Regions from separate parts of the Homo sapiens genome. Here regions 1, 2, 3 and 4 are each reported to be linked to region 5. The links are microRNA targets in miRTarBase. Many come from high-throughput screens and were not tested one by one. Region 5 holds a microRNA gene; each other region holds the end of a gene's coding sequence.

Region 1 (6,139 bases), not on the chromosome of region 5:
CCTGACCCTGGTCCTTCCTCGTTGCCCATCCACTAATTCCAGCAGGGGGCACAGGGCCCCAGAGACGATGAGGCCAGCGCCCGGCTCTAGGGGTCCCAGCACAGGGGTGGGGCAGTGCAGAGGCAGCTCCAGCCTCTGTGTCCCCAAGTCCACTAGACAGTCCCCACTCCTGTCAGGTGATGGGAGGGTGCCCTCACAGGTTGCCAGCTGCCCACGTCCCCAGCTGTTTTAGGTCCCGAGATGCCCCCAGGTGGGGCCAGAGCTGCCCTGGGCATCACAGCAGCATCTTGCCATCGTCACCGCCCCCAGCCACTCTCCAAGCTGAAGCACTGGCCTGTGTCCCCTTGGGCCCTGGCATGGCACTGCCACTGCCTGGCCTGTGGGTAGAGGCCTCATTGCCCTTGGCTCCTGCCAGCTCACCCCCACAGTGACAGCATGCCCGCCTGCAGGATTCACCTCAAAGGCCACCAGCCTGTCCTCTTGGCCCTCCATGGTGCAGCCTCCCCTTGGCCAGCTCGCCCCAGGCTGCCCCCCCAGGCGGGACTTTGGGCTCCTTACCTGCCATGCGCGGCTGTCAGGAGCTTGAGGCAGGTCAGGTCCCCACTGACGGCAGCGTGGTGCAGCGGCCGGGCTCCCTCCCGGGTCTCTAGCGTGGCCGAGTGGCCCTCGTGGAGCAGCCACTCCACCAGCACTGGGTGTCCAAAACGGGCGGCCAGGTGCAGCGGGGAGACGCCCGAGGCATCTTGGTCCTACCAAGCCCCGGGTAGGTCAGTGAGTGGGGGGTAGGCCGTGAGGTCAGAGCCAGCTGCCGGAGGTGGGCCCTGGGCGAGGGCTCACACTGCCTGCAACCCAGTGAAGGGGCTTCCAGCTCCTTCCTCCTTCCCTCCGTTTCTGCCTGCAACATGGAGGGAGGTGCTCCCTGCTGGGACTGAGGTGAGAGGAGGGCCAGGACTCAGGTCCAGGTCTTGGGAGGCCACCTCTGGCAACCCTGCCCTCTCCTGGGCCCGTCCCCAGTGTGGAGAAGGCCCTTTCCCACGCAGTCGGGTGCCCGCAGACACCTGCCCACTCTGCTCATGGTCAGAAAGGCTTCCCAGGACACCTACCTCTGGCTGGTCCCCTGCCCCAGTGCCCTCCCGCTGGCCACAGGGTCCCGGGGCCAGGGAGCGTTCCTACCACAGGTGTCAGGGGTCCAGCAGACCTGGGCCTTCTCCAAGGGCCCTGTCAGAATGGATCCCCAGGCAGGCACAGCTCCCGCCTGCTGCCCTTGGGTTTGGCGGAAGGGCCGACAGGAACAGGATGCTGGGCCGGGACTCTCAGGTGCTCTGGCGAGCCAGGTGCTGGGGAACCTTCCCGCTCCGCAGTCTAAGCAGGCCCCACCGGCCCCCACCTCAACTCTGACCTCTGGGCGGCGGCGTTCTAAGGCCGGTCAGTCCTGCTCACCCTCAGCCCTGAAAGCTCCACAGGGCTGAGCGACAGCTCTAAGGGCCTCGCCTGCACAAAGGGGACTGGGCAGGCAGGATAGGGGAGGGGGGCCCAGTAGAAACGATCCGGACAAGACGATCACCATCAGCAGCCCTAACTCCCGTCCCCCAGGGCTAGGCTCCCAGCTCTCAAGCCCAAGTTCCCACAGTGCTTCTGTAAGGATCCCTTTCTAGACCCTTTGGGAGGCAGGCCCTGTGGACCAGGCCTGATCAGAGACAGGGGTCCTGATATCTGGCAAGACCCCCACTGGCAACGCCCAGCTTCCTGGCAGGGAAGGTGATAAGAAAATTTAGGAGGTGTTCTTGGCTCTCAAGCCTTTGTGCTCTGAGAGGCGTGGGGCAGAGACGGTAACCACTGACTGAGTCCCCAAGAGAAACAAAGGGCCCAGGGCCATGGAGCCCGGGGTGGCCAGTACTCTGATCCTCCGTGGCTCACACCTCCCTGGTTCCACCCCAGCCAGCTTCGTGGAGCCAGGCTGCCCCATCCCCGCTCACCTGCAGACCGCAGCCCCCCTCGCGGACCAGCCAGCACAGCTCGGCCAGGCTGCCCGTGGCAGCGGCGTCATGCGCTGGGGTGGCCCCGTTGTGGGCCCGCTGGTTGCCGGGCAGCTGGGCCCGCTGCACCAAGAACTTGACGCAGTCCAGGTGGCCAGCCCGGGTGGCGTGGTGAACCAGGCCGGCCCCCAGAGCATCGGTGATGCCCGGGCCCAGGGCGCCAGCCTCCAGCAGCCGCTCCAACGTCGCCACATCCCCATCCTTGGCGGCCACGAGTGCCCGCTGCTTCTCCATCCTCTGGCCCGGGCTCTCAGTGGCGACTCATGCACAGGCTGGGGCTTCCTGTTTCAGACGTGGATGAAGCTGCCGGCTCTGGTTACCCGATAAGCTGCCACAGGGCAGATGGGAGGCGGTGGGGTGGGGTCGGGTGGGGGGACAGGCCTTGAGGACCTGCCCAAGCCACTCCCACAGTGTGAGGGTGCCAGGTGCCTGGAGCTGGGAGGATGGAGTACAGGGCACAGGGAAAGGCCCACACCAGGCTAGGTCAGGGCTGGGTATGGCCAGCAGAGAAAGGAGGCTGGCCCTGAGGCTGCTCAGATCTGTCCAGATGGCAGGAACTTCATCTGTGGAGCGAGGGCTGAGGATACACGCCACTGAGCTTCTCACAGGAGCCCCGAGTGGCCTGGGAGACAGTTCCCCCAACTCTCACAGAAGGGCAGACCCCCAGCCGCCACCACAGTGTGTCTGAAGTAAAGGGTGCCCAGTAGGTCTACATGTTTGGCTGTGTTGACACCCACAGAGCTGAGCGCCCCGCCTCTGGGTCCCGGCCCTCGGCCCTGGAGGCTCCTAGGAATCTCTGGGGACACAGTGGCTCCACGGGGCCTGCAATGGGCTCAGGACCCTGACTTGGGTGTGTCCAGGCCTCTGAGGCGAGAAGGTGTCAGCCCCTGCCTCGGCCCCCTCTCCAACTACACGGACCAAGTCTCTGGGCTGCAGCCCCAAGGGCCCAAGTACATTTAACCCCTTTCCAGATTGTTCTGGACAATCCATAGTTCTTCTTTAGGGAAGTCAGGACCACCACAGCCTCTTCCTGGCAGCAATGGGAAGCTGCAGATGGGGGACCCATTACATTTGTAGGGGCTTCCGGAGACACAGCCTCAAGCTGGATTTCTGGGCTAACGCATCATCACACAATGGTGACCTGGGGGCTGCTGCACCCCTGGCTTCCCCCCGACAGGCTCTGTCAGATGACTTTGTGCCCAAGCGCAGTGCCCACTAGAGAAACCACAGGATCCCCAAGTCGGGCACTGAAATCTTTTATTCGTTAATTTAGTTTCTGGCAAGTGTTTCCTCAAAATCATCAAGTAGTTCCTTGAACCGTAAAACCACACATTAAAAATGTTATTCCACTGAAAATGACTCCTATGCAAATATCGACATGTGATGTGTGTCCAAATGCCAGAGCATTTTGAGAAAAGAATCCTCTGCAAATAAAATTAAGGTAAAAGCTGAGTCAGGGATGATCCGATTCCCACCCCAGGAATGACCTGGAGCTGCACCAACTCAGCGAGGTTGGAGCTGAAACCCTGAGTTAATAATGATCAAAAGGGACAAGACAGGAAGGCCTGGGGACCGTGGACAGGGAAGTGCGCAGCCCTGATTGCCAGTGGGCGGAACAGGGTCAGGCTCGGGGAAGCAGGAGGGGTGGTGGGCGGTGGGCGCTGAGCAGAGCAGGCCTGGCCGAGGCTGGGGGCCACTGTGCACTGAGGCCAGAGGAGCAGGGTGGTGGGGGCAGCTTTGGAAAGGGACTAAAAAGGGCCTGAGAAGAGACCACTCTGGAAAGGTGCATGTAGAGGCCATGATCAAAACAAAAAAATCAAGTTTCCTACGTTCATGATAGCATTTGGCTGACAATGAGTTATAAATACTTGGATTCTATCTTCCAGATAAAAACACCTTCCAGGAAAGGGCACTCACAACAGGCGTGCCCAGTTCCCAGTGGGGAGGGTGGATAAAGCTAAGTGTTTCCGCTTCACCACTGGAGGACGGTTCTATGTGGGCGGTCCCATGTGGGCGGTCCCATGTGGGCGGTCCCATGTGGGCGGTCCTATGTGGGCGGTCCTATGTGGGCGGTCCCATGTGGGCAGTCCTATGCGGCGTTGGTGTCCTGGGCCCTGTGAGCTCTGCAGGGGTCCAGGGAAGGAAACTGGGGGTGCACACTCGCTGGCACTCCAGGACAAAATGCAGAGGGGGCATGAGACAGTCATCCTGGCACAGCCCTCAGGAGGGAACTGGAGGGACAACCCTGTGCCCTGCCACGGGCTTCCCAGAAGCGGGGTGGGGAAGGCGGCCCCAGTGCTAGGCCTGGTCCTCCAGCTGCGCCACGGCCTGCTTCAGGTCCTGCACGACGAGGTCCACCTCGGCCCTGGTGGTGCTGCGGCCCACGCTGAGCCGGAGCGCGTTCCTGGCCACGTCGAAGGGGACACCGTAGCTCAGCAGCACTGGGGACGGCCTGGGGAGGGCGAGACCGAGCTGCAGCTGCTGCTGAGGGCACATGGAAGAGACACAGCCCCCCCTGCTCTGGACCACTCCCCTAGTGGGGCTCTGCCCACCCGGATGTGCGCCTGCCTCGCCTGGCATCCACCTCCTGCTAAACTCCCAGACCAAGCACACCCCTAAGATCACCCACATCAAGGTGTGGCTCAAAGTCGCCCCCGTTCTCCCTGCAGAGTTCTCTTGCACTTGGCACTCCCAGGTGACACTGCCTCCCTCTCGCACTGAGCTCTGGGGCCAGGGGCTCTCCTGTCCTTGAGGGGTCTGAGGTCCTGGAGAACACGGATGCCGACACAGACAGTGCCTTACCCATGCGGCCCACCTGAGCCACTTGGTAACTTCATGGCACCTAGCATGGGGCTTTGCAGACACTAGGGACCCAGTCAGTATCTAGCCATGAACAGATGACTGCGTGGGGACATCCTGAAGCAAGGCTGTTGGAGGCTCGAGATGTGGGCTCTGTCAAGGGGCCTGACCTCATCACACCCGGGTCCCTTTCCTCCCCTGCCCCTCCTGCAGCAGGGCACTGTCCCCCCAACAAAGGGCCCCATCCTGCCCCTCCTTTTCCCTGGAGCCAGGCCCACCACTGTCTCGCTCCAGGTGCTCCTGCACAATCCCTCTGCCCTGACCTTGATGGCCACGTGCTGCTGGCTACAGTTCCGCTCTCTCCCCAGAACCCTGAGTGTTCCTCCTGCGTCCACTCCGACCTCCCACAGGGGCCTCACGTTTTCAGCAGACCAGACCCAGAACCACTTCTCCCCTGCTGCCAGCAGGCCGCTGCTCGGGCACCCCACGCCCTCTACCCCACAGTCTCCGCCAGGCAGCCCACCCGCTCACCCGGGCCCTGCTATCTGAGAATCTCTGCTGCATCTTGCAGATGGCTGATCTGACACCTGAGTCTGCTCACACCATGGCCCTCAGGGCTCCCACTTCCATGAGGTTTAAGTAAGCACTGACACTCAGGCCATCCCCACCCCAGCCCACCCCAGCCCGCCCCAGCCCTCCCCAGCCCCGGCCACGCTGGCCCTCCAGGCCCTGCCCTCCCTCCGCCTTCAGAACTGAGCACGAGAAGCCCTCTTCTCCCGCACAAGTCCTAGTCCTTCAGATGGCAGCTTGGAAGTCACTTCTTCCAGGAAGCCCTCCCTCTGCCCCTCCTAGGGCCCAGACAGGGCTGTCCTTCACCAGCCAGAGTGCGGCCCAGTGGCCGGATCCTGCCGCCTGCCCACCACACCCAGTGCCCGGAGGACCCCTATGCCCTGGACTGGGTTTGTGAAGAGCACTTACTGGTCCCCGTGGTCCGAGTGGCACGCGGCCCCCACACTGGCCATCAGCACTCGGCACTGCGCAAGCACCACGTGGCCTGCGGAGACAGAGCACATGCCCCTGAGATGGGGCTCCAGCCAGGTTGCCCTTCTGTCCCTTCCCGGGGTCCTGCTGGGCGCAGGCTGCTTCCCTCCCTCTGTGCCACCTGGTGGAATTCCAGCACTGGCCATTCTGGCAGCTGGGGAGAGATCTCACAGCAGGAGCCGAAGAAAACGCTTCCTTTCTCCCTTGGCTGCACAAACGCAGACACTATTCTGCCTCACAAAGCTGGCCTTGAAAATCGCATT
Region 2 (6,139 bases), not on the chromosome of region 5:
TCATGTTTAATTCTGTAAACTAATTGTTTCAAGGCTCTGAGTAAAGACTGCTTTTAACTGGGACTCTTCGTCTTTGTGACAGCGGGGCAGCCCGTAGACAGGGCTGCAAGGCCTGCTGTGGATATCTCTGTGCACATTCAGCTCTGTGTTAAGCTTTTTCTTTTTTTTTGAGACGGAGTCTCGCTCTGTCGCCCAGGCTGGACTGCAGTGGCGCGATCTCGGCTCACTGCAAGCTCCGCCTCCCGGAATCACGCCATCCTCCTGCCTCAGCCTCCCGAGTAGCTGGGACTACAGGCACCCGCCACCATGCCCGGCTAATTTCTTTTTTGTATTTTTGGTAGAGACGGAGTTTCACCATGTTAGCCAGTATGGTCTCGATCTCCTGGCCTCGTGATCCACCCGCCTCGGCCTCCCAAAGTGCTGGGATTACAGGCGTGAGCCACCGCGCCCAGCCTAAGCTTTTTCTCATCTGGCAGATTTGCCTTGTACTTAAAAGTATCTCTAAGGAACTCAAAGCTCCTAGGCCCCAAAGACTAGACCTCTAATAGTAGTACCTTGGACTTAGTGGCAGGTACTAAGTGGGAGAAGGTACCTTGGCACAAGGAAATGAGCCAGAACCAACAAATGAATTCATCTACTTAAAAAATTAAGTCTGTTTGAGACAACTTTTGATAGTATTAAAATGTTAAATCTAATTGTATTTCGGGAAGAAACTTTGGAAAGCTATCTGATTTTTGTTCTCTCTTTTGTAACTGTACCATTTTCATGGTTGCCTATGGTCATCAAGTTTTACATGCTGAAATTCTTGGTTTTGGATCACTGCAGAAACGTGAAGAGGGCTGGTGGGTGGTGATTGGAGATGCCAAGTCCAATAGCCTCATCTCCATCAAGAGGCTGACCTTGCAGCAGAAGGCCAAGGTGAGTGTGTCCACTGGCCCTAGCATTTGTTCTGGCATGGGGGAAGGGTGAGAATGCTTCCTGTGTCCATGCTCATCTTGATTTCTGCCTGCTCTTTCTAGGTGAAGTTGGACTTTGTGGCCCCAGCCACTGGTGCCCACAACTACACTCTGTACTTCATGAGTGACGCTTACATGGGATGTGACCAGGAGTACAAATTCAGCGTGGATGTGAAAGAAGCTGAGACAGACAGTGATTCAGATTGAGTCCTGAGGCATTTACTTTTGGGTAAAGGAGAGTTGAGCCTGAATTAGGAATGTGTACATTGTAGGAATCCTGGTTGTGGGGACCAGGTCTGTGGGCCTCAGGTCTGGCCAGCCAGGGCTGGTGCTGTCCCCGCCTACCTCCACTTCCTTTCCCTTGCTCACTCTGGATCCAGTGACAGCAGGTGTCATGGGTCAAGCATAAATCATATATAGCATTTTCAGGCATGTTCCTGGTAGTTCTTTTGAGTCTGACATTCTAATAAAATAATTTGTAGAAACCATTTGTCTTTGTAGTGATTCCAAATTAAAAGTTTTCTTTCTCCAACCTGAGGGCACGGCCAAAAAGATCTGGTTATTTTTTAGCCAGGAACGTGCTTGTTAATGAGTATGTCTGGAGGACAGACCTGCTCATTAGGTGTGCTGTCCCCTGTAGCCTCGTGAGTCAGCCCAGAGGAGGGTACATGCGACTGTGGCCTGGCCTCAGTGGTACCCACACATCAGCACTACCACAAGAACCAACACTGAGCCTCGGAAGCTAGATCACAGGTTAGGGGTTTCTCTAGATGGGGGTTCTGAAATTTGCAGTGTCTGCTCCTGGGAGGCAGCACCAGAAAGGGCACTGAAATGTACTAGCTGGATGTGACCCAGTCTTAATAAACAGGTTTTCTAATCCAGATCTTCCGACTGTCTTCAAATTCTTACCTTCTGTTCTTTAGATTAAATGCACACAAAATTGAAAGATGATTCTGAAGGGCAGTTTCCTCAGGGTAGCAGTTTTCAAATGATTTGGTCTTAGGACCTCTTTACACTACTAAAAACTAAGAAACTCAGGTTTTTGTTTTTTTTTTTTTCTTTTTAAATAACAAATTTATTTTTCACAGTTCTGGAGGTTGCCCCAAAAAGCTTTTATTATCTAGATTAAGGTTAATGCACTTTTAAATCATAATGTTAACATTTTTTTTCTTAATAGAGACAGAGTTTAGCCATGTTGCCCAGGCTGACCTTGAATTCCTGAGCTCAAGTGATCCGCCCACCTCAGCCTCCCAGAGTGCTGGGATTACAGGCATGAGCCACCATGCCCAGCCCACGTTAACATTTTTTATGAAGAATAACTTCCAAAACAATCCAAGGAGAAGGGTGGCATTTTACAGTCTCTTTAGTATCTTGTTATAATAAACAGTTGAATTCTTACAGCTGCTTCTACATCCAAACTTTTTTGTTGAAGTAAGTTGACTTCACACAGATACGCAGTTGGAAAAGTTTTTAAAATAGCCTTTTCAGCTAATTGTGGCTATTCTTTGATACCACACCAAGACTACAAGTGATTTTTTTTTTTTTTTTTTTTTTTTGAAATGGAGTCTCGCTCTGTCACCCAGGCTGGAGTCCAGTGGCACGATCTCGACTCACTGCAACCTCCACCTCCCGGGTTCAAGCTATTCTCCTGCCTCAGCCTCCCGAGTAGCTGGGACTACAAGGGATCTGCCACCACGCCCGGCTAATTTTTGTAATTTTAGTAGAGACGGACTTTCACCATATTGGCCAGGCTGGTCTTGAACTCCTGACCTTGTGATCCACCCACCTTGGCCTCCCAAAGTGTTGGGATTACAGGCGTGAGCCACCGCGCCCGGCTTACTACAAGTCATAGTTTCTTAAAGGCAATGTAGACTCCGAAAACTTAATGCACTCTTATATTGTTAATACATTAAAATCCACTGGCCTGTCTTACACTTTTGAATCAATCTTTGAGCCATGCATGATTTTGTAACATCACGTACTGGTCACTTGGAAAAATGGTTCATTGAATTCTTCCAAATGAAATGCATTTCATTATACAAATCACATTTGTTAATATCCCCAACAATAAAGCTCATGGTGGAGTACAGATTTTCGGAAATTCCAATTTTTGCTTGAAAGCTTTATCACTGGCAACACTATCAGTTGTTTCCCTTGAGGTGAGAGGCTCATTCCATTAATTTCCAGAAAATATCAGCCAAATATTCAAGTCTAAATACCGTAATCTGCTAGTTCTTTCAATTCTAAAGGGCATGCCTTGAACACAGCCAATTCAGCTTGCAACTCAACTGTGTAACTGCTTTTCCTCAAGGCACCCATACTTCAGTGCACAGCAGAGGGGCTTTATGCATGCTTCCAGTTTTCTCAGAATATTATAAATTCTCAAGGTCAACTTTTTTTTTCTTTTTGAGACAGGGTTTCACTCTTGTTGCCTGGGCTGGAGTGCAATGGTATGATCTCGGCTCACTGCAACCTCCACCTACCGGATTCAAGCGATTCTCTTGCCTCAGCCTCCCGAGTAGCTGGAATTACAGGCATGCACCACCATGCCCAGCTAATTTTGTATTTTTAGAAGAGACGGGGTTTCTCCATGTTGGTCAGGCTGGCCTCGAACTCCCGACCTCAGGTGATCCGCCCGCCTCAGCCTCCCAAAGTGCTGGGATTACAGGCATGAGCCACTGCGCTGGCTAGGTCAACATTTAATAGTTAACCATTGCTATTTGTTCTATCAAGGACATATCAAAACTACTAGAAGTTTGCTGCCACCACCTTGATTCATGCCACAGTGCCAACAGTTGACCTCACAGATCCTCCCTGAAAGGGTCTTGGGACTCCCAGGATCTGCAGGCCGCATTCTTCGAGAACCACTATTCTAGGTACAGCCCCACTGTCCTTCTAAAATCTAAGGTCACAGCTTAAACTTCAGGGAAGGCTGTAGTTTTGGAGGCCATTGTCACATTAGAACCCATTTAGAAGTGACTGTCAAGAGACAACTTGAGTGAGTCTGAAACTGCCTGCTGATGGCAGTGTTTCTCAACTGGTTTAAATCGCCAGTCCCCTAGGAAGCCTTCTTCCTGATCACTCCCTGCCATGAAAATGGAATATCACAGACACACTATATGTGCTGTGGGCCTTAGGAGGGCCACAAACAACTGCTTGTGATTTTTTTTTATCCTTACTGAAGAACCAATTTGCATCCCTGTTGAGAATACAGGGCTTGTGGCCAGTAATAACTCTCCCTTTTAGGATTCCTGTCTTTCCCCATTTTTTTTCTATCCCCAGTTGCCATCACAGCGTAACGGTGCAGGGAGGTATATGAGGGTTGCTAAGGGAAAGCAGAGGTGCCCCTCACTCAAACCTACATTCAGAAAAAAATTTCCTTCATTATTGATTGGATGTCTTAAATGCAAAGACTTACACAGAAACTGGGAAGGGAGGACCTATTTCAGACAAGGATTCACCATGGAATTTTTATGAATATCCTTATAAAATAGGACTTGGGATGCAGATGGATTATTTCTTTAAGTCTTGCAACTTCAGAAAAGCCTGAGACACATACCCCCTCCTACTATATATAGTGATTATAAATAGTATATTTACCTCCAAAAAATTTAACACTGTGCCCTAATGCAAGAAAAATCTGTGGTATAACAATGTACTCATGTTCTGTAGCTCTTTACTGAAGGCCTCATGTCAAAGGCGGGGAAGGAAAGCAATTCTGTGGCTCTGCACTTCTACCCAAGTCTGAAGAGAAGTGAGCCAAGTTAAATGAAGGTCAAGGATGCTCCTCCTGGTCCTCTCAGGGGCTGGTAAAGTCTTATATGACGTTTTCTGGGGAGTCATTACTCTGTCCAAAGTCGAGGTAGCTCAGAGGCCTTCAGGCCGCTGATACTTCCAGAAGGCCACCTCCCCATCATCACTGCAGGAGGCCAGTAGCCCTGGCTCCTTGGGGTTCCAGGCCACACAGTTGACATCCTGGGAATGGGCCTGATGCAAGTGGGCTGTCAGGGAGAAGGTGGGCTGCTGTGGATCCGAGTTGGGATCCTCCTGAAACACGCGGATCGCGTCATCCCCACAAGCTGTGGCCAGAGCCCCTGTCAGCTGACACCTGGAAGGAAAGTGACATCAGTGGGTATACCTGACTAATTAGGCCAGAGAGACCTGTTCCATAGTTCCTGGCCTGTTCTCTTCCCTAACTTCAGGCCTCAGCTAAAAACCTCTTATTAAAATGTTTCCTTAACTAATAAGGAGTCACAAATATCACCCACTTATATCTTCAGATGCTGCAATCTAGTTCTTTCCCCTACTATGATTATCCTAAAAAACGACATGCAATTATGAACTGCACTTTCCTCACTTGGCATAAGCAGTTTCCCATGTCATAAAGTTGTTTTTTTTTTTTTTTTTTTGAGATGGAGTCTTGCTGTGTCGCCCAGGCTGGAGTGCAGTGGCACAATCTTGGCTGACTGCAACCTCCCCCTCCCAGGTTCAAGCGATTCTCCTGCCTCAGCCTCCTGAGTAGCTGGGACTACAGGCATGTGCCACCATGCCCGGCTAATTTTTGTATTTTCAGTAGAGACAGGGTTTTATCACATTGGACAGGCTGGTCTCAAACTCCAGACCTCAAGTGATCCACCTGCCTCAGCCTCCCAAAGTGCTGGGATTACAGGCCATGAGCCACTGGGCCCAGCCATCATAAAGTTTTTTTTTTTTTTCTTTAGATGGAGTCTTGCTCCATCACCAGGCTGGAGTGCAGTGGCGCAATCTCGGCTCACTGCAACCTCCGCCTCCCGGGTTCAAGCGATTCTCCTGCCTCAGCCTCTGAGTAGCTGGGATTGGGTGCGTGCCAACACGCCCAGCTAATTTTTGTATTTTTAGTAGAGACGGGGTTTCACCATGTTGGTCAGGCTGGTCTTGAACTCCTGACCTCATGATTCACTCACCTTGGCCTCCCAAAGTGTTGGGATTACAGGCGTGAGCCACAGCGCCTGGCCCCATCATAAAGTATTCTTAACCCCTTTCTTTAAACAGTGATACAACAAGCTGAGTTCTACCATAATTTACTTAAGTTCACTTTTGTTGAATAGGTGATTCCCAAATGTTTGCTAATATAAAGCAAGCTTAAGTGCTCAGTTTTTTTCACTGTTTTGGATTTCCTAGGGATCAATTCTCAGGGCCAGAAC
Region 3 (6,139 bases), not on the chromosome of region 5:
AGTTGGTCATAATTATGTATTTACCTGTGGGATTATTGTCCCTATTAGACCGAAATGGATGTGAGATGACAGAGGCCTTATTTGTTTTGTATATTGCTGCCTGACGCGCAGTAGGTATTCATAGAAAGGCAGCACAGATTAGTGGCTACAATGGACTGGTGAGTCTAGTATTGTCACTCACTTGCCCTTAGACCAGGTCTACTTAACCTGGGGTTTAGTTGCCTCATCTATAATAGGGAATAACAGTCTCTACTACTCAAGTTGTCATGAAGATTCAGTCAGTGAATATTTATTAACATGGTTAAAGACATATATATATATATATATATATTTTTTTTTTTTTTTTTTTTTTTTTTTTTTTTTGAGACAGTCTCACTCTGTCGCCCAGGCTGGAGTGCAGTGGCGTGATCTTGGCTCACTGCAAGCTCCACCTCCCGGGTTCATGCCATTCTCCTGCCTCAGCCTCCCGAGTAGCTGGGACTACAGGCGCCCACCACCACGCCCACCTAATTTTTTGTATTTTTATTAGAGACGGGGTTTCACCATTTTAGCCAGGATGGTCTCTATCTCCTGACCTCGTGATCCGCCCGCCTCGGCCTCCCAAAGTGCTGGGATTACAGGCGTGAGCCACCGCGCCTGGCCTTTTTTTTTTGTTTGTTTGAGACAGAGTCCCGCTCTGTCATGCAGCCTGGAGTGCAGTGGTGCCATCTTGGCTCACTGCAACCTCTGCCTCCCAAGTTCAAGTGATTCTTGTGCCTCAGCCTCCCAAGTAGCTGGGATTATATGCATGTGCCACCACGCCCAGCTAATTTTTGTGTTTCTTGTAGAGACAGGGTTTCGCCATGTTGGCCAGACTAGTCTCAAACTCCTGTCCTCAAGTGAGTCGCCTGCCTCGGCCTCCCAAAGTGTTGGGATTACAGGCATGAGCCACTGTGCCTGGACAAGAAATTTCTATTATTATTTTTCTCTCAACAAATTATCAAACATCTGTTACATCTTGACAGGCAACAGATAAGCATGAATAAGGACATGGGTCACCAATCTCACTGGGGGACAGATGACAAAGTAGGAAACAAAACAGCCTGGCATTGTGGCTTGTGCCTATAATCCCAGCTACTTGGGAGGCTGAGGTGGGAGGATCACTTGAACCCAGGAGTTCAAGGCTGCAGTGAGGTATGATTGCATCATGGCACTCCAGCATTGGCGACACAGCAAGGCTCCGTCTCTTGAAAAAAAAAAAGTGAGAAGTGCTATATATCATATCACACTGATAAGACAGAGTAACTAGGGCATGGGTACTTCAGCTGGGCTGAGGGGAATGGGATTGTTAGGGACATGACATTTACACTGAGGTCTGAAGGATGAGAAAGAGCCAGAATGTTTGCTGGGAAAGCACTTCAGACAGAGGGAACAGCAAATGTAAAGGCCCCGAAGCAGGAATGAGCTTGGTTGTTTGAGGAACCACAAGAAAGCCAGTGTGGGCTGGGCGCGGTGGCTCATGCCTGTAATCCCAGCATTTTGGGAGGCTGAGGCGGGTGGATCACCTTTCAGGAGTTTGAGACCAGCCTGGCCAATGTGGTGAAACCCCGTCTCTACTAAAAATACAAAAATTAGCTGGGCTTGGTGGTGGGCGCCTGTAATCCCAGCTAGTCTGGAGGCTGGGGCAGGAGAAACGCTTGAACCCGGGAGGTGGAGGTTGCAGTGAGCTGAGGTGCAGTAAGCCATTGCACTCCAGCCTGGGCAACAAGAGTGAAACTCCATCTCAAAACAACAACAACAAAAAGAAAGCCAATGTGGCTAGAATACAGGGAGGAAGGGGGAAGAGAACACAAAATCCTGGGAGCCAGGAGTCCTAGTGATCTCTAATAAATGCTTAACAAATAAGAGCTTGGCAACAGATGAGGCCATGGTGAGGGGTTTGGATTTTAGTCCATATTTGGTGGGAAAAAGACGTGAAGAGACACACCTAATTTGTGGGTTTTTTTTTTTTTTTTTTTGGACAAATGTATAAGGACCTCCTTAATTCCCTCTGCCCGGTTCCTACCTTCCAGGTCCACCCCGTGGCGCTGGGCCAGGTGAAGAACATTGTCCCCGACTCTGCCACTCACTGGGATCCGCTGGCCTGAGCGGTCTACGAACACCACGTTCACCCTGGGGACAGATGGAAGTGCGAATGCCGAACTGGATGATGGGCTCAGGGCCCGGGTAGAATCTAGGGTTAGGAAGTAGGAATTGAGGCTTGACGCACAGGTACTGAATAGGGCAAAGCAGAAGGGGGACCTCGAGATGAAGCTACAGGGCAAGATGGGGACCAGAGGAATTCCGTGGGATGAGGAATGGGGGACTTGGCCCCCTGCACTCACACGTCCCCGGGCCGCTCCGGGCCGCCCGCGTCCTCCTCTCCAGCCGGGCGCGAGCCTGGAAAACACGGTTCGGTGAGCGGCTGCGCCGAGCCCCGCCCCGCCGGCATCTGACGGATTAACGCTGCCCGCCCCGGGCGCCCCAGGTACCTGTCGCTTGAAACTTTCTGGTTGTCCCCAGCGCCACCCCCTCCCCCGACCCGGAAGTGCCCCCAGGTCTGTTCCACCAGGTGCCCCTGGCAGCCTGCAGTAGAACCCTGGCACTCACGCCTCCCCGGGCCATGGAGGCGGCCATGACATGCATCACGTGACTCACCGACTGAGCATGCGCCGCGCCAGGGAGGCGAGGGAAAGCCCATAATCAATGGAACATAAGCGCAGATGTTTGCTTAGGGCCTGCGGTGACCAGGTGGGAAGAGCAGGGCGGAATCCATCTCAGGTAAACCCGCGGGGCCATCCCAGACCTCCCACTCAAGCCCACTGTTTGTCCCAAGAACCAGCCAACTCTGATTTCTTTAAAACCATTTACTTACAAACTTTAATTCAGCAAAGGTCCGTGTGGGGAGACTGGGGTGGGGTCGGGGGAATAGTCCCCTTGGAGTGGATGTGGACCCCCAGAGTCAAGGGAGGGAAGCTGGTGGCCCAGTTGGCTGGGGGCAAGGCCCAGGGTCACCTCAGGTCGACAGGTCCTGCTGGTGGGCGGGCCCAGAGTTTATCTTCATGGAGTGCTGGTTTCTGGCACTGGGCTGGAAGGAGGCCAGCTCCAGGGATCTGGCCGGGGGTGGGCAGGCAGAATTCAAGAATTCATCTTCAACAAGCGAGTGACAGCAGAGGCTCCGGGAGATGGGCACAATGTCCGACTCCCACAGACAGACAGCAGGGGACTGGCAGAGAAAGCCCATCTCTGCACGGAGGCCCGGGTAGGAGGGGGTGGTGGGGCCGGTTCGCCAAGATGAAGGCTTTCCCCTTCTACTGTCCCCAGGGTGGAGATCCTGGGTAGGGTGGCCCAATCCCTAGGCCAGAGCTGTTTGGTCCATAGTCAAGCTCCCAGAGCTTGGCATCTGTGGCTCTGGCCAGCAGGGCCTGGGGCCCAGCTTTTAAGGCATCAGAAGGGGAGGGGGCTGCGGCAGGGACCCCGGGCCCCACGGCTGGGGTATAGGCCAGATGGGCAGGCAGGGGCAGGAGACAGCCATGCCTGCAGCAAATGTGGGAAAAACAGCTGTTTCAAACCGCAAGGTGTGGAATGGTGGCCCGGACAGGCCGGGCCTTGAAGGAATCAGAGCTGGGGGCTGTCCGGGGTGGTTTGAAAAATAAAACTTAGAAAAGGAAACAGAAGTCAGTTGTCAAAGTTAAAAAAAAAGGAGACAGTCTCTGTATCTTCACGGGAGGTCAGGGAAACCTCCAAGGCACTCGAAAGGCCAAAATTACAGGAGCAATGAGGCAGGAGGGCTCCGGAGAGACGGGCACAGCGGAGGAGGAGATGGGGGGAGGGAGGGAGAGCAGGCCGGGGCCCCTCTCTCTTAAGGCTGCAGGGTTTCAGCGTGGGGAGCAAGCCAGAGACATAATGAGGCCTCCAGACTCCCCCACACCCCTTGGGCTCCTGGGGCTCCGGCTGATTGGTCAGTAAAGTCTTTCAGAGATTTTTCTATTACCGAAAGAGAGAAAATGGTTTAAAAAAAACACAAAACAAAACATCAGAAAACCCAAAAGCGATTTGGTGCAGGCCCTTGAGTTATCTCTGGTGCCAGCCACTTAGAAAATCCTCTTCCGCTTCAGGTAGGAGTCCGCGTAGTGGCCGCCGAGGCCCTGGGAGTGCTGGCCCACATAGCTGCCTTCTGGGCTGGGCTCGGGCGAGGGCAGCAGGTGGGCAAAGCTGCGTTTCTGGCCGCCCAGTGGGGTCTGGAGACAGAGGGCAGGGCGGGGCGGGTCAGGGGCCGCTGGGGGGCCGGGGCTTCCCAGCCCTGCATGTCCCCACCCCCTGCCCGTACCTTCAGCAGGTGGCTGTGACCATTAGGCCCGGGGCTGAGGCCCAGGAGCCCTTCTCCGGACCCCAGCGGGGAAGAGCCGATTGCCTGGGAGAAATGGAGAGGTGGAACAGGTCACTCCCTGGGGGCCAGAGGAAGCACCCACCCCGCCCCCCTGCCACTGCCCCCCAGCCCTGAGGGAAAGCGAACAGTTTCAGGTTCAAATCTTGCTTCTGCTACTTTCTAGCTATAAGACCTAGGGCCAATTGCTCCATTTTATTTGAGCCTCGGTTTTCTCATCTGTCAGATGGGGCCAGTAGCACCCACAGCCTGGGCTGTAGAGAGAGGAAGTGACAGAAAGCCCGGAATGCTGGCAGTGCTAGGTGCTTGATGCAGAGTGGATGGAGGACAATAGGCTGTTGCTACTCCACCCTGAGCAAGACCAACCCCTGCCACCACCCCAGCTTTGGCCTGGGCACCGAGGGTTACAGAGCCCCGGTGGCAGGCACCCCCAAATCCTAGCTGTCCCAGGGGGCCTGTGCTTGGCCAGAGAGGTTCCTCACCTTACTGAGGTGGCTCTGCTTGAGGCCAGCCTGCAGGCCGCTGGTGAAGTAGGAAGTGGGCGAGCCTGAATAGAAGTGAGACAGGGGGCCCCCGCCACTCCCACCGCTGCTCCGTTCGCCGAAGCCACTGGGCGGGGGGGACATCTGTAGAAGAAGGGCCGGTGGAGTGAAGCAGACAATTGTAGTACCCAGCCCTTTGTATACAATCTTCCCTCTGCCTCCCAGGTTCAAGCGATTCTCCTGCCTCAGCCTCCCGAGTAGCTGGGATTACAGGCATGCGCCACCATGCCCAGCTAATTTTTTGTATTTTTAGTAGAGACGGGGTTTCTCCATGTTGGTCAGACTGGTCTCACACTCACGACCTCAGGTGATCCGCCCACCTCGGCCTCCCAAAGTGCTGGGATTACAGGCGTGAGCCACCATGCCCGGCAGTTCTGGGCTTTGCAAAGACTAGCTTTGGCTAATAGGACTGAGGAGAGCTGGCACGTGGGTACCCGCCTCCTCTTCCTCCTCCAGGAACCCAGGGATCATCACCGCACGAATGGGCACACAGAAACTGTTCCAGCCTGTGGACGCCAAATATGTGAGGCCACATAGCTCACTGAGACCCAGGTGAGTGCCGGGGACCGCCCACTGCCCCATAGAGTGGCAAGAAGTAATACAATGCCTGGCATGGTATGGTGGCTCATGCCTGTGATCCTAGCACTTTGGGAGGCCAAAGTGGGAGGATTGCTTGAGCCCAGGAGTTTGAGGCCACAGTGAGCTATCATGGAGCCACTGCACTCCAGCCTGGGCAACACAGTGAGATCCTGTCTTAAAAAAACCCACAAAGAACACACAAAATACAAGGTCTGCTGTTCCAGGCTACTAAGTCATGGCACAGCCTGTCATGTAGTAAAAGCTGATTGCTACACATGCCATACCAGGTGGCTCTTACCTTGTGTCGGCTGGGTCCGTGAGGCCCAAGGGCTGGTTCCCGTGGGTGGGAGAAGAGCCGCCGAGGTCCCATGTCCTGAATGAAAGCGGGAGAAGCACATTGGGTTGGAGTCTGTCCCAGCCTCACCCCTGGCTGAACTCCATGGCAGAGCTGTCATCAGGGAAGACAGTCCCCACCACTCTGGGACCAGGAAGAGGCAAATTTGGGGCTGGATGCAGCTTGGCAGGGATGGCTGCTGTGAAGGGGGGTGCCCCCCATGGGCCTAAGTGTTTGGAGTTTCCCAGGCAAGCTGGGAATTCGAGCTGTGTGGACTCT
Region 4 (6,139 bases), not on the chromosome of region 5:
ATGCATTGAGTGTGACTGTTGCCAAATGTTTTCAAATTTAATCTCGCAATCTTCGCAACAACCGTGTGAGGAAAGGGTCTGTTCCCATTCTATAGATGTGGAAATGGAACCTCAAATGAGAATCTGGGGAACACCAATTTAACAGACAGACCCAAATTCAAATTCCAGCTTTGACATTTAATATCAGTCTGATCATGAGCAAGTTGCTTCAATACTCCCTCCTCAATTTCCTTATCTGTGGGATGGAATTAATACCTAAGGTTACAGGAGGGTTGTGAGGATTAAATAATACTGGGTAGCTGGGATTACAGGTGCCCGCCACCACGCCCGGCTAATTTTTTTTTTTTTTTTTTTTTTTTTTTTTTGTATTTTCAGTACAGTTGGGGTTTCACCGTGTTAGCCAGGATGGTCTGGATCTCCTGACCTCGTGATCCACCCGCCTTGGCCTCCCAAAGTGCTGGGATTACAGGCGTAAGCCACCGTGCCCAGCCATTATTTTTTTTTAAATGCATATTGAGGATTTAGGCACTTTGGAGACAAAAATAATGCAATACAGGGTTGGGCATGGTGGCTCATACCTGTAATCCCAGCACTTTGGGAGGCTGAGGCGGGCAGATCGCTTGAGCCCAGGAGTTCAAGACCACCCTCGGTAACATGGCAAAGGAGTTCAAGACCACCCTTGGCAACATGGGGAGGCTGGGGCAGGAGAATCACTTGAACCTGGGGAGGTTGCTGTGAACCGAGATCACACCAATGCACTCCAGCTCCATCTCAAAAAGAAAAAAAAAAAAGCAATACAAAGAACTCTGGAATCAGAATGAGAAGGATTCAAATTCTACCTCAGTCGCATGAGCTTGGGCAAATTTCTGAATCCTGAACAGCTTGCGAATGCTAGATGCCAGGTACCTGAACTGTGCTAGGTGGTTTTTATGCATTATTTAATCCTCACAACCCTCTTGTAACCTTAGGTATTAATTCCATCCCATAGATAAGGAAATTGAGGAGGGAGTATTGAAGCAACTTGCTCATGATCGGACAGACATTAAATGTCAAAGCTGGAATTTGAATTTGGGTCTGTCTGTTAAATTGGTGTTCCCCAGATTCTCATTTGAGGTTCCATTTCCACATCTATAGGATGGGAACAGACCCTTTCCTCACAGGGTTGTTGTGAAGATTGGGAGATTAAATTTGAAAACATTTGGCAACAGTCACACTCAATGCATGCCACATAGGCTGGGCGCAGTGGCTCATGCCTGTAATCCCAGCACTTTGGGAGGCTGAGGCACGTGGATCACTTGAGCTCAGGAGTTCCAGACCAGCTTGGCCAACATGGTGAAATCCTGTCTCTACTAAAAATACCGAAATTGGCCGGGCGTGATGGTATGTGCCTGTAATCCCAGCTACTAGGAAGGCTGAGGTGGGAGAATTGCTAGAACCTGGGAGATGGAGGTTGCAGTTGAGCCGAGATTGTGACACTGCACTCCAGCCTGGGTGACAGAGCGAGACTCCATCTCAAACAAACACCCAATGCATGCCAACTGGAAAAGAAATGGAAAACTTTTATCCCCATTTCTATGGCTGAGGAAACTTGAGGCACAGGGAAATTAATCAATCTCCCCAGCGATATAGTGAGTGGCTCAATCAGAACCAGAATCCAGGTTTTGTACTCCAAGTGTGATTCACTTTCTCCCACACCCTCTCAAATGACTCTAGAGGAAGGGGAAGTGTATAGGAATCCTGCGAAAATGAACAGATACCTCAAGGGGAAGGGGAACACAAAGTCCACTAGGGGAGGCTGCCTGGAAGAGACCTAGTGTTCTGACAGCGGTATTTATAGGAAGTAGGAAGCCCGCGGGAGTGGTCTTAGCTCTTACATGATGTGGTTTTCCTGGTAAGCTAACTAGTTCCTGGTACCCAGAGAAGTTAAGAAGCTTGACCAAGGTCACACAGCCATAAACGGCACTGGCACAGCTTGGGGGTTGCACCTCTTTGTTCCTGGCGTTGTCTCCTTGGTGCTGGAGGCGGTAGGATGAGAAGCAGGTAATCATAATGTGGTGGGGTTGGGGACACAAGGGGGTCCTTCCAGATTCAAACAGCCTCTTTGTCACAGGGGAAGTCCAGTAGTGGGCAAAACAGCAAGGTAAAATGTCAAGGCCTCAGGGTCAAGCAGAGCAGGGGGGAATCCTGGCTCCCCCACCGATTAGCCATGTGGCCTCAACAACGTCAGTTCACCCGTCTCAATTCTCCTACAGGATTGCTGCAAATTCAGAGGAATGGTCTCCAAGTACCCAGCCCATGGCCAGGCTTAGAAAAACACCATGGTCATTATTACTCCACAGTGCCAGGGCAGCCGCAGAAGGGTGACAGGACTGGATGTCCAAGGGACAAGTAGACTTTCAGTGCCAACAGTCCCAACCTACAATCACTGGGCACAAGTTCTCGGCAGGGCAGGGGCTATCAGGTCAGGCCCATGATGCAATCACAGCTCTCTGCCTATGCTACAAGGTGAACCATGACCTTCAGGAAATTGAAAGAACAGCCCATAAAAAGGGAGTATGAAACAAAACCTCAGCGAACGTTTATTTCTCATCATATGGAACTGGTAGCAAAGCCAAAGATTTCTGCACTTGAACACTGGATACCACTCCCTACCCACCCAGTGAACATTTACAGTCATCACATGCCCTCTAGAACCCAGATCCCCATGCCGGGGCCTCTTCTCTCCTGCACACCTTCTTGCAGGGAGGGCTTTCAGGCCGGAAGGGGGTGCCGGTTGCTTCTCCGCGCCTGCACGGGTATTTAATGTGGCACACTGGCCAGGCTCCTCTCCTGCCCCGCCCAGCAGCAGCACGGCCCTTGCCTTTCTTCAGTGCCCTCCAAACTGGTCAGAGAGGAGGCACAGACTGCTAGAAGAAGGGCAAGAGAAGTCGTAATTCACAGTCATTTGCTACAGAAAGTGCCTGGAATCGGTCCTTGGCTGCTTCTGCCTGGAAGCAACCCACTTAAGCCCCAGGAGAGGGGACAGATGAGATACTGGGATGGGGGTGGGAGTCCTCAGAAGGCACCCAGGAGACACTGGCTGCAGAAATGGGGTCCCTGATCTTGCAAGAAAATCCGCTTGCTGTTGGCAGGTTGGCCTGAGAATCCCAGGGGCAGCTTCAGACATTGTGGGGACTCAGACCCACCCTCTCAGTCTGCAGCTGTGGCAGTCAGAGGTTTGGCAATGTAGCCATGGTCACCTGGCCATGGCCCAGGGGCAGGGTCCAAACAAGAACCCTGGTGCCTCCCGCCCCTCCTGCTGAGCCATGGTGCCACCTAAGCCATCTAGAAAGGCTCAACTTTTTGGGAGACATCTGCGGCAGGGCCACTGGAGGCAGGAGAGTGGGGTGCTGGCCTCTGCGAGGCAGGTGCAGCTCTGGGAGAACAGAATTCTCCCTCTCCTCCTCCTCTCACACACTGTGGCTCCAGGTTGGAACCTCAAGCATAAAGGACCAAAATAAAGAGGATTTATAATCTAATACTCCCTCCTCTTCAGAAGGCAATGTGACCAGCAAAGGCTCAAACTCTCTAGAGATAATCTGCTTTTTTTTTTTTTATGTACTTGGCCTCTCTCCTGACGCCTCACACCATTAAGCATGGAGAAAAGGGAAAAAGGGCAAAGGAAGTCAAAAAACTGAACTAGGATTCGGGCAACAGCCTCAGGCTGCCCAACAGAACAGGCTTTTAGGGAACTGGACACACAGACCAGCTGTGACCCTGACTTTCACATTGATGGGTGAATGGCAAGTAGGAGGTAATGAAATCTGGAAATGACAGGGGAGAGAAGGCAAAGCTGCCTGGAGTGTCAGTCCCGGAGGCATTTGCCCCTCTCCCCCGGGGGCCAGCCAGGGACTTCCCAGTTCAGGAAGGCCACAACACTTGTGGCACATTAATTCCGAGCTTGGCCCGGCTTCTTTCCTGTGCCCTCTGCCTCTGTGGGCAGGGGAAGGAGGAAGGGTGTGGTCCCTTAGGATCTCCAAGTGCTCTTCCAGCTCCCAGGAGCAGGGCTGAGATCCCAGAGTCAGTGCAATGAACTGTCCATTCCAGTGAGGAAAAGGGAGGGTGTGGCTTCGGGACTGCACATCACACACAAGCCCACTGCAGCGTGGGGAGGGTGGGCATGGGACACAAAAGGGTCTGGGGCTGTCTCCAGACAGAGAAGTCCTTGTGGGGAGCTGAACCGGGCCCAGGTCCTGCTCAGGAGTCAGGTCATGTAGCGGGTGATGGCACGGAGGGCGTACAGCAGAGCGGCTTGCATGCGCGCCTCCAGGAGCAGCAAGTTCACGTGGACCTGGGGCACAGAGGAAGGCATGTTGGCAACTGATGTCACTCCTCACCCCCACACCCCTCCCAGACTGCCTTGATCCCTGACCCACTTACCTCACCATTTCCTTTCCTACAGAGCTGCCCCAGCATCTGCTAAGGCTCTGAGCAGTTTAGTACAAGGACAAGCACATTCATTCCTATCATGACTAAGCTCTGTATTCCCTAAAGGTAAAATGGCCAGGTGCGGTGGCTCACGCCTGTAATCCCAACACTTTGGGAGGCCAAGGCGAGTGGATCAGGAGGTCAGGAGTTCGAGACCAGCCTGGCCAACATAGTGAAACCCCATCTCTACTAAAAATACAAAAAGTTAGCTGGGCATGGTGGTGGATGCCTGTAATCCCAGCTACTTGGAAAGCTGAGGCAGGAGAATTACTTGAACCCGGGAGACAGAGGTTGCAGAGGTTTATGTACATTTTTTTATTTTATCTTCCCAGCAACCTTGAAATACAGCAGTATTTATTCCCATTATAAAAATGAAATCCCAGCTACTTGGGAGGCTGAGGTGAGAGGATCACTTGAGTCCAGAAGTTCAAATACAGCCTGGACAATATAGTGTGACCCCATCACAAAAACAAAAAACTTTGAGAGGCTGAGGCAGGAGGATCATTTGAACTCAGGAGGTTGAGACCAGGATGGACAACACAGTGAGACCTTATCTCTACTAGGAATTTAAAAAATCAGGTGGTGTGTACCTCAGGCCCTCTGGGGGCTGAGTTGGGAGGACACTTGAGCCTAGGAAGTGGAGGCTGCAGCGAGCCGAAATCACACCGCTGCGCTCCAGCCTGGGCAACAGAGCAAGACTCTGTCTCAAAAAAAAAACAGGATAAAAAGCTCAGAGAGGCCAGGCACGATGACTCACACCTGTAATCTCAGCACTTTGGAAGTCCGAGACAGGTGGATCACAAGGTCAGATCAAGACCATCCTGGCTAACACAGTGAAACCCCGTCTCTACTAAAAATACAAAAAATTAGCTGGGGATGGTGGCACACGCCTGTAGTCCCAGCTACTCAGGAGGCTGAGGCAGGAGAATCGCTTGAACTTGGGAGGTGGAAGTTGCAGTGAGCCAAGATCGTGCCACTGCACTCCAGCCTGGGCAACAAAGGGAGACTCATCTCAAAAAAAAAAACAAAAAAACTCAGCGAGATAATGTGACTTGCCGAAAGTCACACTGCTATCAAGAGATAGTGTTATGATTTGAACCCAGGTCCACCAAGCTACCACTAATGTGAAGCAGGCACCCTCATTCCCATTTTACAGGTGAGTAAACAGACTCTGAAATCACACAGTGGAATAGGACTTCAATCCAGAGGAATAGGCCCAGGTGTCCCACCTAGCAGGACAGACTCAGTCTGGGGACTCTCACTGGGTCCTAACCCCTTGCCCTCTCCACTGGCTTGGCCTGTCTACTTCCATCCTGCCCTGCCTGTATAGGTCATACCTTCTCTGAGTGGCGGAAGTGCCTCCAGAAGAGGTTGTACATTCTTCGGGTGGTCTTCTCTGGGTAGCAGGCCACTGTCTTGATATAGACCTTGAGGTTCCGCTCCAGGAGCTGGTTCACCTCCCCATAATCATAGTCATCATATCTGGATGGAAAGGTCCCAGCAGCATTACTCATGCTTTCTTCCCAAAGGCAGCTCCCTCCCCGCAACCCCACCCTACAGAGGGAAGAACAGAGTGTTGAGAAAAATCAGAAGGTAGAAGCAACAAGAAGCCTAGTTCCTCTTGGAGAAACAGCTGATATCGTGTTATCACAGGCCGCCACATTGGCAGGGG
Region 5 (6,139 bases):
TAAAGCTTGGTAAATATGTGCATATGTCCCCTACAACTGGGGACGCTGGAAAGGCAGCATCTGAACACTGGCTGCTTTGAAAAGAGGTCATGAGAAGGGCAGAAGGGGTCAGCTGGGCATGGGGTGATGGAGGGAACCCCAAGTCCACTCCTAAATTCTTTCAACGTCCATCTCTTTCCCTGAAAAGTCGGCTTGGCTACTAGGCCTGAAAAGTATGTTGTTTATATCATGTTTGTGAGCGTCAGGGTTTATTTTCACCTGCTCCAGATACAAGAAGCAAAAAGAACTCTACATTTTTCTGTGTTTGGGGTGCTCAGGCGAGAAAGAAAATGCCTGCTTAAAGTAACTGATCAGCAATGTTTTGTTTGTACACGCACTTTATTCTGGTGAGTGATTTTAAGTACCAAGTTTGCCTTAACTTTTCACTGCACTCATTTTTATCCTCATGGCTAAAATAGCTGTATTTGCTCCACAATCAAAATTAAAGGAGGGTGAGCTGATCGTTAGGAGGCTATAGTTGATCTGGCAAGAATTTCCATCTTTCTGTTCATAACGTTAAGTTGGGGGGTTGCTGGGAAGGGAAACAGAGAGAGTGTTCCCTTGGAGGGACTTTTCCAACTTTCATTGGTTTGAATCACCAACATATATTTTATTTTTAAGGAAGTATCATATTCATTGCAGAACCACCTCTAAATATTTTACTCCTGGCCATACCGTATTCTTTTCTATTGAAACATCTTTTTTGCCTCTCTGAGATCAGCTATGGCTTGGGGATTGCTAAGAACAAAATTCAAAGTTGCTTGTTTTTTGTTTTTTTTTTTCTTAAATCCACACTTCTTTGGGGGTTAGCGGGGGTGGGGAGGGAACAGCAACTGCTTAATGAAGTTTCTCACACAGAGGCAAAAAGAGAAAAGCCAAAATATATTCAGTGTATCCAGCAGTTCCATGCTGAATTTTTTTTTTCCTTATTGGTTGAGGGGGGTGTGTAGGAGGGTGGTGGGAAGGATCTGAAAAGAAGCTGTGATTCTTTGCTGAATTAATGATGACTTCTCACTGCAAAATGCTGATTTATAATCTCTTCACCATACTAGACTGTTTCCAGACTCAGAGGGGGGTTAAAGTTTGTTAAATGTATTCATAATTACATGCACAGTTTCAGACGGCTGAATATAAGTAATGCTTGTGCTGTTGCGAATGCTCACCATTAAAGCAGAAATTGTTTCACATTTAGCACTAAATTCTGTCTGATTTTGCACACTTAACAATTCAGTAATTTTAACATTCGGCTTCGTCGCCTCCATTATAGCTCAGTATCTTGGAGAAACAGTCAGTGTTCCGGCCTCGTTAATTCATGTAAAACACCCTATTTGTAGAAGTATCATTAAAGGCTAATTTGATGAGATATCCTTATTTAGCAAAGCAAATAGGATTTGACAGTCAGCTCCGGGTGGCGATTTAGCAAAGCACAAACACAATTCACAACGTGACAATTTCCCATCCACGCGCCTCGCTGGAATTGTGGACTCCTGAAAATTGTGCTGTTTCATCGTGTCCCATACTAAAGAGAAAGAACTCTGGAAGTAAAGAACTGTTTTTGCCAAGGCAGCACAAATGTCATCTGTGTGTACATGTGCCATGTCTTTCAAATCCTAAATCTTGTATCAAGAACGCTGTGTTCAAAGGTTTTTTCCAGGTACAGCTCACTTTTCTATTCCCTGCTATGTAGACTTAATTTAAATCTAGACTTGCAAATAACTTAGGATGTGTGAAAGTCTATATAGGTTACAACTATATAGGGTGTGTGTGTGTGTGTGTGTACACACAACTGAAGGTTAATGTTCTGCGACGGGGATTTATACACACTACCCTTGCTTTAGAGACTTCCCCTGAACGTATTATCCAGCCTTCTATAAAACGCCTGGCTGGGTGCAGTGGCTCATGCCTGTAATCCCAGCACTTTGGGAGGCTGAGGTGGGCGGATCACGAGGTCAGGAGATCGAGACCATCCTGGCTAACACGGTGAAACCCCGTCTCTACTAAAAATACAAAAAAATTAGCCGGGCGTGGTGGCGGGCGCCTGTAATCCCAGCTACTCGGGAGGCTGAGGCAGGAGAATCGCCTGAACCCGGGAAGCAGAGGTTGCAGTGAGCCAAGATCGCGCCACTGCACTCCAGCCTGGTCAGAGCCTGGACAGAGCGAGATTCTGTCCCCAAAAAACAAACAAACAAACAAACAAAACAAAACAGAACAAAAAGAACGCCTTCAACAGCAAAGAGTTGCAAAGAAATGTTGCAATTCCAGGTGGAAGCAAACAGCTGGTTTCTCCTAATTTAGCAAACGTAAAGACAAATCTAATGTCGTTACAATTCATCATTTCAGGAGCGCCTTATTTGGGGGCTTCAAACACTTTGCCACAATTGACATCCTACTAATTCCTTTCCAATCCAATACTGTCCCTTAAACCACTGTGGGGGTGGTCAGGGGGAATGTACTTTCTCCTCCTTGTATCGTTTTTCGGCCTCCCAAGGAGAGAAGCCCTTGGAAAACACAGTAGGTTCGGCAAACTGAGAACACACACTTATAAGAATACCGCCCTCGAAGGGACCTTTTAGTTTTATGGAAAGTAGCAAACCTCCCCCTCTTTCCCCGCCCCCCCGCCAGCCGGGTTTTGGACGCGCTCCCTGGGGGTGGTAGCTCTCTGCCCTCACCCTCCCGAGACTGCCGGGGCCTGAGTCCCTCGCTGTCCAGAATGACCCCAAAAGCGGGACTTTGAGGGCCAGTTGGATAAAACATAAACTCATCTCGCCCTCAAAACCCCGATTCTGAGACCACAGCCTCCAAAAGCCTCTTTTCCCAAGAAGTGAGTCCCCATTCACGGCTGACAGCACCGGGGCAGGCCGCCTTTGAGGCAAGAGTTTGGAGAACCGGGATCACTGAAGGAATCGTTACTGGGTGTTCCCTCAGGGCGGCGGTTCATCTCACCAAAATGCCAGGGGGTCGCTGTGGGAGGAGGGGACATTTGCCACACCATGGCTGAGGGCAAGAGGATCGCTTGATCCCGGGGTGTCTCTTCCCTCCCGGAGCAATCACCAATCTCGCCCAGCAAACAGGCCTAAAAGCTTCCCGGACAACACGAGGGGTGCCCCAAACGTCCCTTAGCAGCGGATAAATCGGGTGTCCGAGGTGCCTCGTACAGTTCCCCCCACCCCATCTCCAGCTAAATAAAGTTTGGTTATTTGTGTCCTTAATCGTCTCTCATTAAAGTCAAATTTGCTGCGCGCCCAAGTTGGGGGAAATGATTTCCATTTTAATAGCTTAATTAGCCTCTAGGTTCTGGAAAGGCCACTCCCCCACGCACCTTTTCTCCTCATTTTAACCCCCCTCCCTTTTTCACAACTTCTCCTAAAAATAAATTATAAATATGGATGTGTCCTCAGAGGACATAAGCGGCGCATTCCAACGCTCCGCTTGGTGGGGATTGGAAGCAAAGAGAAACCAGAAACGCCACTCCCCCCACCCCCAAATCAAAATGCCTTTTTCTTTTTTTTTCTAACTTCTTTTTCCTAACTTGGTGTTGTCTCGGGCACAGACACCCCGCTCCGCACCCCGGAACCTAGTTTTTTTGCCCCCGTCCTGCAGAAGCTAAAGCCAACGCGCCAGGGCTGCCTGCTTCTCGGGGGGAGGGAGCTGACAACTTTAGGGGGCGGCGGTAACTCTCTGGGGACGGTGGTTCCCGGCTAGTCCGGGATCCCCGGGGCCCGGCCCCCGCAGGCGCCGCCGCCCATGCCAGCGGGGCTCGGGCGCACGTGGAGCGGCGGGCGCGGCCGGCCTGCTCCGCGCGCGGCATTGAGATCGGGGTCACGCAGCGAGTCAGTTTCCCGAGCGGGCTTTCCGGGGTGGGGGCGGGGACGCGGACGCTCCACCGCCTCGTCAATTTCCAAGCCCAGGCACTAGGGAGGCTGGGGGCGGCCTCGCCCCCTTCCTACCTCCCGGCTTCACACGCCCCTCTGGGGAGCGGGGGAGGGGTCCGAGGGGGAGCCGGGGTGGCGGCAGCGGCGGCAATCGCAGCCCAGACAAGCGTCTCGCGCCGAGTCCCGAGAGAACCGCGCGCTCCCCCGCCGCCACCTCCCCTCTCCCGTTCCCATCCACCCCGCAGACAGCCGCCCCACACCCCTTCGGCCCTGGGGGCTTGGGCACCCACCTGCCGCGATCCCTGCCTTGGCTGGCGGAAGGTGCCAGGCGGGAAGAAGGGGAGCACTCACCGCCGCTGCCGCCTCCGGGGGTGCACGGGCCCCCCCACCCAGGGCTGCGCCTTCCCGGGCTCCGGGCAGGCGTGCGCCGGGCGGGGGGCGCCCCGCGGGCCCTGCAGCCTCCGCCTCGATTGGAGCCCAGCCTTAAATCCTCCACCGTGGAGAAGAAGGGTACTTCCAGAAAAAAAATCCGCCCCTCCCCAGACGAGATCCAAGTGATGGGCGGGGAGCGTAGAAAATCCTTTTCTGCAGAGAGCGCGCAGCCGACGGGGCTGCACCCGGCCTCCACGGTCCGCTGCCGCCACAAAGCCGCGCCCCCGCCCCCCCCAACCCCCCAGCGCCCTATGGCCGGCCCGGGGCGGGGGCTGGGCCGGCCCGGGGTTGGCCGCGCTGGGGAGGCGGCGGCGGCAGCGGCCCAGGCGGCGGGGCGGCTCCTCCCCGGCCAGGCAGAGAGGGCGAGAGCCTGGAAGCCTAGCGCGCCCGCCCGGGTGGGGGTGGGGGTGGGGGTGGGGGTGGGGGTGGGGGCGGGGGCCGGGGTGGGGGGGCGCCTTCCTAGAAACGCTCGCCAAATATAGTCAGCGGATAGGGGCATTCCTAGAAATGCGGCGGCGACGTCAGCCTCGACCCTGGGGGCGGGGGGCAGAGCCCGGGGTGCTTCAAACAGGGGGCACGGAGGAGGGGGAAAGAGTCCCCACTTCCAGTACCACCGCAGCCCACAGACGGAACCGAGGCCGGGCTTCCCTCCCGAGGGGCGTGCTGGAGTCCTCCAAAGGCGCTTGAGGTATCCGGGAGCTAGGGGCGCATCCACTGAAGATTCAGACCCGGTCTGTCCCCCTCTTTCGGGAACACCCAGTGCCAATGCCAGCTGGCGCTTTTGGCCCTTCCCCCAATTTTCAGCACCCCCCGCTTCCCCCGCCGCACAAACACACACAACCCCCGTGAACAAACAGTAAAAGTAGGAGCAGCATCAGGCAGGTTCCCCAAGCCTCTTACACCCACCCCATGACGGTCTCTCACCTCCTCTGGAATGGCTGGAGTCCCCTGGATCCCCCAGGGTTGAAATTGCACAGACACACTGTGTTCCCAAGAACTCCCCCAAATACCAACCCAGCTTCGGGCCAGAAAATAAAGTTGTGCTTCCTCCTCCCCAGTCCAATGTCACTTTGTTGCTGCTTCCGGGGCTAAGGGCTCTTGGAGAGGTGCTGGAACTTGGGGGTAGGGCACAAGGGTGTCCCCTCCACCTGGCAAAGATCTGGCCTCTGGTGCTGACACTCTCACCAGCCATAGCTGTAATACTTTTCATTTCCCGCAGTAAGGGAGATGCCCCCCCCCAGCAGCTCATCCCCTTCCTAAAATCTTCCCCCACCCCCACACCCCTGCCCAGGGACCCCCAAATCCATTGCAGAAGTGGCCCCTCTTTCGCAAAGAGAATCCACATAACTGAGACATGACTTGTCCCTCTCCACCGCCCAGCCTCTCTGCGCGAAAACGTGACTGGCCTGAACCTCCCAGGATCATAAAAAATGTATTTTGCTGTCCTCTGTTGGCCAACACAGGTCACGCTCATAAAACACACCACCCAACTTAGCGGGCAGTCCTGATGCCACAGAGGAGGTCCCAGGGACCCCAGCCAAGGGGAGCGAGCTGGCCTCCTCTCCTTCTGCCTGTGGTGTCCCTGCCCTCTCCATCCTCTTTCTTTCTTTTTCTTTTTTTTTTTTTTGTTTGAGACAGAGTTTCACTCCTCTTGCCCAGACTGGAGGGCAGTGGCGCGATCTCGGCTCACTGCAACCTCTATCTCCCAGGTGTAGGCGATTCTCCTGCCTCAGCCTCCAGAGTAACTGGGATTACAGGCATGCGCCACCATGCCCAGCTAATTTGTGTATTTTTAG

What was found. Region 5 holds the annotated microRNA hsa-miR-193b-3p (AACUGGCCCUCAAAGUCCCGCU, at 2,761-2,782, opposite strand). A microRNA usually pairs through its seed, bases 2 to 8, with sites in the 3' UTR of a target mRNA and lowers its output. Matches are read on the target gene's strand: a 7mer-m8 pairs with bases 2 to 8, a 7mer-A1 pairs with bases 2 to 7 and ends in A, and an 8mer does both.
Region 1: miRTarBase lists SCLY as a target of hsa-miR-193b-3p. The part of its 3' UTR that is shown has no 7-base or 8-base seed match.
Region 2: the mRNA of CIAO1 is a reported target of hsa-miR-193b-3p. Seed matches in the 3' UTR shown: 7mer-m8 at 2,875-2,881.
Region 3: the mRNA of RAVER1 is a reported target of hsa-miR-193b-3p. The part of its 3' UTR that is shown has no 7-base or 8-base seed match.
Region 4: miRTarBase lists SESN2 as a target of hsa-miR-193b-3p. Seed matches in the 3' UTR shown: 7mer-m8 at 2,812-2,818.

The regions. Positions count from the first base shown.
Region 1 is chr2:238,096,551-238,102,689 of GRCh38, reverse strand. It overlaps SCLY (selenocysteine lyase), which reads right to left. Exons shown (of 12, transcript NM_016510.7): 11 at 5,814-5,889; 12 at 3,277-4,488. The coding sequence ends at 4,335. ESPNL (espin like) reads right to left here and starts at 2,350. Exons shown (of 9, transcript NM_194312.4): 1 at 1,977-2,350; 2 at 559-749. The coding sequence starts at 2,270. UBE2F-SCLY (UBE2F-SCLY readthrough (NMD candidate)) reads right to left here. Exons shown (of 19, transcript NR_037904.1): 18 at 5,814-5,889; 19 at 3,277-4,488. RefSeq lists enhancers at 1-142, 3,908-4,202, 3,837-4,505, 4,506-5,173, 5,174-5,842 and 1 more.
Region 2 is chr2:96,270,036-96,276,174 of GRCh38, reverse strand. It overlaps CIAO1 (cytosolic iron-sulfur assembly component 1), which reads right to left. Exons shown (of 7, transcript NM_004804.3): 7 at 2,002-5,064. The coding sequence ends at 4,824. It overlaps SNRNP200 (small nuclear ribonucleoprotein U5 subunit 200), which reads left to right. Exons shown (of 45, transcript NM_014014.5): 44 at 826-918; 45 at 1,020-1,837. The coding sequence ends at 1,163. Among named protein-coding and RNA genes, the nearest start is that of CIAO1, 6.9 kb to the right of the region's middle.
Region 3 is chr19:10,313,342-10,319,480 of GRCh38, forward strand. RAVER1 (ribonucleoprotein, PTB binding 1) reads right to left here. Exons shown (of 13, transcript NM_133452.3): 10 at 5,825-5,899; 11 at 4,888-5,031; 12 at 4,349-4,432; 13 at 2,871-4,259. The coding sequence ends at 4,113. FDX2 (ferredoxin 2) reads right to left here and starts at 2,674. Exons shown (of 5, transcript NM_001397406.1): 1 at 2,511-2,674; 2 at 2,364-2,418; 3 at 2,045-2,151. The coding sequence starts at 2,655. It overlaps FDX2-ZGLP1 (FDX2-ZGLP1 readthrough), which reads right to left and starts at 2,674. Exons shown (of 9, transcript NR_176052.1): 1 at 2,511-2,674; 2 at 2,364-2,418; 3 at 2,045-2,212. RefSeq lists silencers at 2,309-2,428, 3,562-3,753.
Region 4 is chr1:28,278,907-28,285,045 of GRCh38, reverse strand. It overlaps SESN2 (sestrin 2), which reads right to left. Exons shown (of 10, transcript NM_031459.5): 9 at 5,805-5,949; 10 at 2,555-4,330. The coding sequence ends at 4,244. Among named protein-coding and RNA genes, the nearest start is that of SESN2, 22 kb to the right of the region's middle.
Region 5 is chr16:14,300,660-14,306,798 of GRCh38, reverse strand. MIR193B (microRNA 193b) reads right to left here and starts at 2,832; the gene lies at 2,750-2,832. MIR193BHG (MIR193b-365a host gene) reads right to left here and starts at 5,418. Exons shown (of 2, transcript NR_170633.1): 1 at 5,268-5,418. RefSeq lists an enhancer at 1-329 and silencers at 2,692-2,741, 3,695-3,934, 3,840-4,000, 4,285-4,774.